Homo sapiens: one gene and its partner. The protein of the gene in region 1 interacts with the protein of each later gene in a pairwise test. Each region holds a gene or a part of one and is shown in the gene's direction. Other genes may lie near its edges.

The links.
Region 2: the proteins of WIF1 (region 1) and ICOS interact in a two-hybrid assay, tested with the Homo sapiens proteins (one large-scale study listed by BioGRID and IntAct).

Annotation. Positions count from the first base shown.
Region 1 is NC_000012.12:65,065,700-65,069,354, reverse strand, and holds part of WIF1 (wnt inhibitory factor 1 precursor), read left to right. Parts: intron 1-450; coding exon 451-591; intron 592-1,564; coding exon 1,565-1,660; intron 1,661-2,618; coding exon 2,619-2,714; intron 2,715-3,655. UniProt on the Homo sapiens protein: Binds to WNT proteins and inhibits their activities. May be involved in mesoderm segmentation.
Region 2 is NC_000002.12:203,957,130-203,960,784, forward strand, and holds part of ICOS (inducible T-cell costimulator precursor), read left to right. Parts: intron 1-669; coding exon 670-754; intron 755-841; exon of another isoform or gene 842-954; intron 955-2,456; coding exon 2,457-2,470; 3' UTR 2,471-3,655. UniProt on the Homo sapiens protein: Stimulatory receptor expressed in activated or antigen-experienced T-cells that plays an important role in the immune response.

The DNA of each region.
Region 1 (3,655 bases):
CTTTTTGGATTATATGGAGGCTGATGAAGATGCCACAAAGTTTCTTCCCCGAATCAACTGCTTTTTATTTATTTTCGTTTGTCTTTCTGTTCTTCCCATGCTACACTGACGTATACATAATTAACCACTTTATGATTCTTCTTTCCATCTTTAATTTCCAGGGAAAATATTTAAGATAGTACAAGTCCAGACTGTGAACAGAATATCACCAATTCCATATTAATGAGGTAAAAATTGGAGTCATTCACTCTTTCTTCACCTGACATGATGCTCAACTTCTGTGGAGCCCAGATGCTCAAAATACAGTTCCTACTCCAGTGGAGATACAAGGAAATCCACAACATGTGAACATTTTTGCTTTGTCCTTTGACTCTTGGTTCCCAAGATTTCTGTAAAACTAGAATCAACTAGATTAACTATTTCTCCACACTTTCTCTTTTTTTCTTTTAGTTGTTCAAGTTGGTTTCCCATGTCTTGGAAAACAGGATGGGGTGGCAGCATTTGAAGTGGATGTGATTGTTATGAATTCTGAAGGCAACACCATTCTCCAAACACCTCAAAATGCTATCTTCTTTAAAACATGTCAACAAGGTAAGCACCGATGGTGATTCAAGAGAAGACATGTTGTAAGGGCTTAGGTGTGATTTGGACCAAATATTTATATCTATACACACACACACACACACACACACACACACACACACATGGTTTTTTGGATGATGGCTCTATAACTACAGCAACGGAAGGAGGAGATGATCAGCACAGGATTTAGCAACAGTACTAAGATAGACTTCCTCTGACCTTGACCCCACTTTTAATATTAGGAATAGGAAACGTTTCAAAACACCTTTTCTTCCTCCCTCTCCACTCCTCCAACACAGTTGTTGGGAGTCCCAGTGTATCTCACCCGTGGTCATGAATTTCCCCCTTTCTTGCTCTGTTTGCTCAAGGCAAGGTGGCTCATAATTACCAGCACTTCCCACTTGTCCCAAAGGCAACACTAATATAACCTCTAATGAATATCCACGGAGGACAGACTGCCACCTCATGCCAGTGATCCCTACCAGGTCAAGGCCTCACTCAATACCTCCCCACCACACCCCAGATGCCCATTTAACTATAAAGGCCTGGCTCCTTTCACATCCCTATACAAGCTTTTCTAGCTCAGAATTTAAGCTCTGGAGCATTTCAGTGCTCTAAAGATGTACCCATAAGTCATCTTACCCTCTGAAAGGGGAAAGGCAATACCATTCATTCAATTGCAGTGGGAATTTAACAAGGTACAGTAGATCCATAGGAGGAGATGAAGGCAGAATAAAATTTGCCTTACCTTCTTCCAAGAGCCCCCTACTGTTGGAAATAAGGGAGGCAAAATCTTACTCTGCAGCAGATTTAGTGAAATCCAAGTGATATCGAGGGAATGAGTTGGAAGTACTGGTATTTGATCAATTATGATTAATTGGTGGGCTAGAACAGAAATGAACACTACTGTCTCACACTGGCTGTGATTCACCCAACATGATTTCAAGGGTGTCCATATAAGCTTTGTTTCTCTCTGCTGAAGCTGAGTGCCCAGGCGGGTGCCGAAATGGAGGCTTTTGTAATGAAAGACGCATCTGCGAGTGTCCTGATGGGTTCCACGGACCTCACTGTGAGAAAGGTAAGACATGGAGCCGATTTCCCTTGCTCCCTTCCTAATGAACATGGATGTCGTGCAGGAGCCCCATGTGTATTGTGTATTTTTAACACCTGAAATTATTTTCCTGGTCACAGGGGCAGAAAATTTTGGCACAATGCCATCACTTTCTGTGGCCATTCCTGGCCATCTCCCCCAACTCATCCCGCTTCAGAAATATAGCCACTGTACTTTGGCATAATCTTATGAAAATTTTGAGGTTTTTTTCCTCCTCTTAAGTTGGATTTAAAAAGCTAGTATCACCACTGATCTGAAATTGTTCCAGTTGAAAGTAGCTTGATTCACAACTAAGAGTATATCTAAGTTATGAAGTTATGATAAGGCAAAAAAGTGGATGAATTTGTGTAGTAAGTACATCAATTTCAGGGAAATTAATTTTTAAAAATAAATGAAAAAAGACATAAGCAAGGAAATGAATATTAATCATAAGATGTTTAAATACTAAGAGCTTATCTGACTACAGTAAGCAAAATATTTTTCATCTTCAAGAAATAAGAATATCCTGTGAGAGACAGTTAAAAAATAATTTTAAAATAAGTAAGAAAGAATAATATTTTCTTATTTTTCTTCTTTGCATTTATGTTGGAATTAGAAGATTAAGCAAATGGGGCAAAGTGAAAATATTTAACAGTTTTAAGAAGACCACATCTTAGTCAAAATGATTCTGGGGAAAATTTATTCAAGTATTCAAATGGAACCAATCCAAAAGTCATCTCTAAGAAATTGGCTGAGAAATTGAAAAACAGCCTAATTTATACCACAAAAATAATATTAATATAGCAAACTTGTATCTCTGAAGAGTAATCATTTTAGAGTCAACCACAAAGCTTGAAAATGTAGACCTGTTGTATTATTGACATTTCAAAATGGTCCTGCTCCAAAATACCATTTGGCCTTAATCAGGGTTCTCTCTCCCTATAAGCCCTTTGTACCCCACGATGTATGAATGGTGGACTTTGTGTGACTCCTGGTTTCTGCATCTGCCCACCTGGATTCTATGGAGTGAACTGTGACAAAGGTAACAGTTTCTTTTTAAGAAGAAAGTTATTTTTACTTTTAAAATGTTTGATTAGAATAAGTTACTTTATATGTCCTCACTCTTCATAACAGCTCTGAGAATGTATGGCTTAGGGTAAAGATGGCTGCTATAGTAACTGAAATCCCAATTTTAGTGTAGCATAATAGCAAAAGTTTATTTTCATTCACAGAATGCTCCAGTGCATTTTGCCTGGTCAGTGGGCAGGGCAGCTCTTCTCCATGCAGTGACTCAGGAGCCCAGGCACCATCTATCTGTGGTCCTGCCTAGAGCTTTGGAACTCTCTAGATCCAGCCAATAGGCAGAGAAGGATTGAAGTAAGCACTGCTAAAAATAAATTAATTAATTAAAAAATTTAAAAGCCCTGGCCCAGAATTTACCCACAAAACTTCCACACCTATTCCATAGGTAGGAATTAGCCTCATGGTCCTACCTGGTTTCAGGCAGAAGAAATGTTGCCCCTGGCTGGACAGTGGTCTCCCACTGACATCTCATATTACATAACGGGAGTGCAAATTTTTGTGAACAATTAGCTGGTCTTGCCACATGGAATTTTAGTATGTCCTAAATTGGTTTTGTGGGTGAGCTTCTAAGGCTAAAATTAAACAACCTGCTCTACATTGCCTAACCTAGAAGTTTACTGACTCCCGATTCAATACTCTGCTCACAAATCACATCCCAGAGAGATTAGGTTCTTCCTTCTTAACATTGCAGCAACACAGCCAGATTTTACTCTTAGTAAGTGAATTCAAACTTGGCCCTAAAATTGCTGAACGATTCATACTCTTTACAAGAGACTTGTTTATTTTGCCCAGTTCACATCTTTTAAGTGGAAAAAAATAAAGACTATGCTGTGAAATTTGTATATTTAATGAAGTTATCTTTGTGTTAAAAATGCTAATTGTATGAATAGAGCATTTTTT
Region 2 (3,655 bases), on another chromosome or scaffold:
ATTTGAATCCAAGGTTCCTGAGAGGCAGGGCAGAGATGAAACAATTAGTTATAAGTTTTGCTTAGCTGGTAAGTTAAAAACAGTCAGCAAGAAAGCCTTCTAAGGTGTCAATTGTAGCTGAGAAGGAAATTGACAACTTTTTTACATGGTAGGTTATTAGACTCCTTGCTTTTAAAGAAAACCACTGAGGAGCTATTTAGAAAGATAAACAACAATGACAACAACAAAAATCTCCCTGTGCTGGGGGATATTCTTTTTGGTCTCTTGCATTACAGGTTCTCAATCAAAGAACTGACACCACTCTGCATATTACGCGAGTATGCTAGTACTCAAGTATATCCACAGTGTGGTCATTGGCCAGTGTATATCTGTGGGAGAGTGGAATTTGGAAAGAGACATAAAGAAGGAAGAGAATGAGATAGCGCCCATGGTCTAAGTCTGCTGGGAAAGAAACAATAAAGGCAAAAACGAGGAAGAAAGTTCAGTAGAAAGCTCTTTTTATGTAAAGCCCTTTTCATATTGTTTTTCTACTTAGCCTAAAGCCAGGAACCTAAGTCACATTATCATGTTTTTGTCACATACCACTTCAACAAAGAATAGAAAACAGTCAAAAAACAAAGAGATGGAGAAGAAAAGATGACCAAGCATGTTTCTGGCTTTTTCTTTCAGAAGTATTCATCCAGTGTGCACGACCCTAACGGTGAATACATGTTCATGAGAGCAGTGAACACAGCCAAAAAATCTAGACTCACAGGTATGACTCCATTTGGGGGTTTGGGAAGGGAAGAGGTTTCTTCACAGTAAGCCTGGAATGTTAATTTTTTTTTTTTTAATTTTAAAGGAAAGGAAAACATCTCCAAGGCCTAATTCTAGAATTTTCTGTGAAAATCTGGATTTCTCACTTTTAACTAGATTTATATTTTCTGCAGTATATTGAAAACAAACAAGCAATAGGTTTGTAAGCCACTATTGAAACTAAACACACAAACAGCTCATAAACCACCATAGTATCAAGGCAATTTTCCCATTGATGTTTCAAAAGTTGGGATGATTCTAAGTGTTTTTTGTTGAAGGGTTCATTCAGTCATTCAATGAGCGTTTATTGAGCATCAGTTAAGTGTGAGTTACTGAGTGAGGCACTCTGGGGAATTTGGACAGATATATGCTAATTTTGGACTGAGATTAGGAAGAGAGATCTGTGCTGGTACTGCTAGAGGGAAGAAGGAGAAATTGATGAAGATATCTGGTTATTTTGAGGTAAAGAGTGTGCAAGTTTAGAGAACTTGGATGGCTTTAGAAGTCTCAGTAACATGGAAATTTGACCTTTTCTGTTAAGAGTCAGAAAACTGAAAGTTGCCAAGTTTGAGGAGCACCCAGAAAGTTTGAAGCTTCCATTGTGGAAAATTCATGTCTTATGCCCTTGAGGTTCGAATGATGTGCGATGTGTAATGAGACAGAAGCCACTGCATTTTTCCACCCCTCAGTGGCTACAGATTATCTAAAGGGGACACACATAGCTTGCGTTGTCATGGAATTATAGCATGGGATGGGAGCTAAAAAGGATCCTTGAGTTCACATTTCATGTTTTAGATGACAGAAATTGATGCTCAAAGTGTTCAGTGACTCTTTTGGTTCCCTAGACAGTTAATACCTAGCTTTGACACTTGCAAAGAGCTTATGTTTCATTACTTTGCTGTTTAAAAAATATATGATCTCTCAATCTCTTTGCTTAATGTGTTCTGGCTGTTTGGATCCCCACAAGCAGAACCTGACATAAGGACTTGGGTGCAAGTAGTTTATTTGGGAGGTGATCCCAGGAAGAAGGGGTGAGGGGGCAGGGAGAGTGAGACAGCCAACAAGGAGAAGCAAATGAAGGGCGCATTATTATCAAGGTCTCAGCTCCAGGCCACAGAGGCCTGACTTCATTGGACCTCTGAGAAGTGTACAGATGCCTCCCAGAATCATTCTCTTGAAGGATGGCAACCACTGGCTCCATCCTCACTGATTTGGGGTTGCCTGCGGAGGGCATTAGCTTTCCCTCATCTCTGAGCTGTGCCTCTACTTGGGATGAGCCTACTTGGGATGAGTCTTCAGAGAAAGTCTGGAGGCAGAAAAGCAGTGAAATGCAGTGGGGCTGTTGTGCTAGAACAGTCAGCCCATGCAGCGCTTTCTGCCCCAGCAGCAGCTGCAATCAGAGGTGGACAGTTTCAAAGTGATGAGTTTAGATAATGTCTGTTATAGGAGTCGAGAGCTAAACTTCTCTGGAAATGGGGAACTGGTGCTGGGTGTTGAAGCATAAAGATGAGTTTGCATGGTGTGTGTGTGAGTGTGTGTGTGTGTGTGTGTGTGCACGTGTGTGTTTGTGTGTATGAAAGGCAATGGAGAGGGGAAAGCTTCTTGTAGGGAACTGGCACATGGAGAGCATTTAGATAATTTATGCTGAATTTTTGTTACAGATGTGACCCTATAATATGGAACTCTGGCACCCAGGCATGAAGCACGTTGGCCAGTTTTCCTCAACTTGAAGTGCAAGATTCTCTTATTTCCGGGACCACGGAGAGTCTGACTTAACTACATACATCTTCTGCTGGTGTTTTGTTCAATCTGGAAGAATGACTGTATCAGTCAATGGGGATTTTAACAGACTGCCTTGGTACTGCCGAGTCCTCTCAAAACAAACACCCTCTTGCAACCAGCTTTGGAGAAAGCCCAGCTCCTGTGTGCTCACTGGGAGTGGAATCCCTGTCTCCACATCTGCTCCTAGCAGTGCATCAGCCAGTAAAACAAACACATTTACAAGAAAAATGTTTTAAAGATGCCAGGGGTACTGAATCTGCAAAGCAAATGAGCAGCCAAGGACCAGCATCTGTCCGCATTTCACTATCATACTACCTCTTCTTTCTGTAGGGATGAGAATTCCTCTTTTAATCAGTCAAGGGAGATGCTTCAAAGCTGGAGCTATTTTATTTCTGAGATGTTGATGTGAACTGTACATTAGTACATACTCAGTACTCTCCTTCAATTGCTGAACCCCAGTTGACCATTTTACCAAGACTTTAGATGCTTTCTTGTGCCCTCAATTTTCTTTTTAAAAATACTTCTACATGACTGCTTGACAGCCCAACAGCCACTCTCAATAGAGAGCTATGTCTTACATTCTTTCCTCTGCTGCTCAATAGTTTTATATATCTATGCATACATATATACACACATATGTATATAAAATTCATAATGAATATATTTGCCTATATTCTCCCTACAAGAATATTTTTGCTCCAGAAAGACATGTTCTTTTCTCAAATTCAGTTAAAATGGTTTACTTTGTTCAAGTTAGTGGTAGGAAACATTGCCCGGAATTGAAAGCAAATTTATTTTATTATCCTATTTTCTACCATTATCTATGTTTTCATGGTGCTATTAATTACAAGTTTAGTTCTTTTTGTAGATCATATTAAAATTGCAAACAAAATCATCTTTAATGGGCCAGCATTCTCATGGGGTAGAGCAGAATATTCATTTAGCCTGAAAGCTGCAGTTACTATAGGTTGCTGTCAGACTATACCCATGGTGCCTCTGGGCTTGACAGGTCAAAATGGTCCCCATCAGCCTGGAGCAGCCCTCCAGACCTGGGTGGAATTCCAGGGTTGAGAGACTC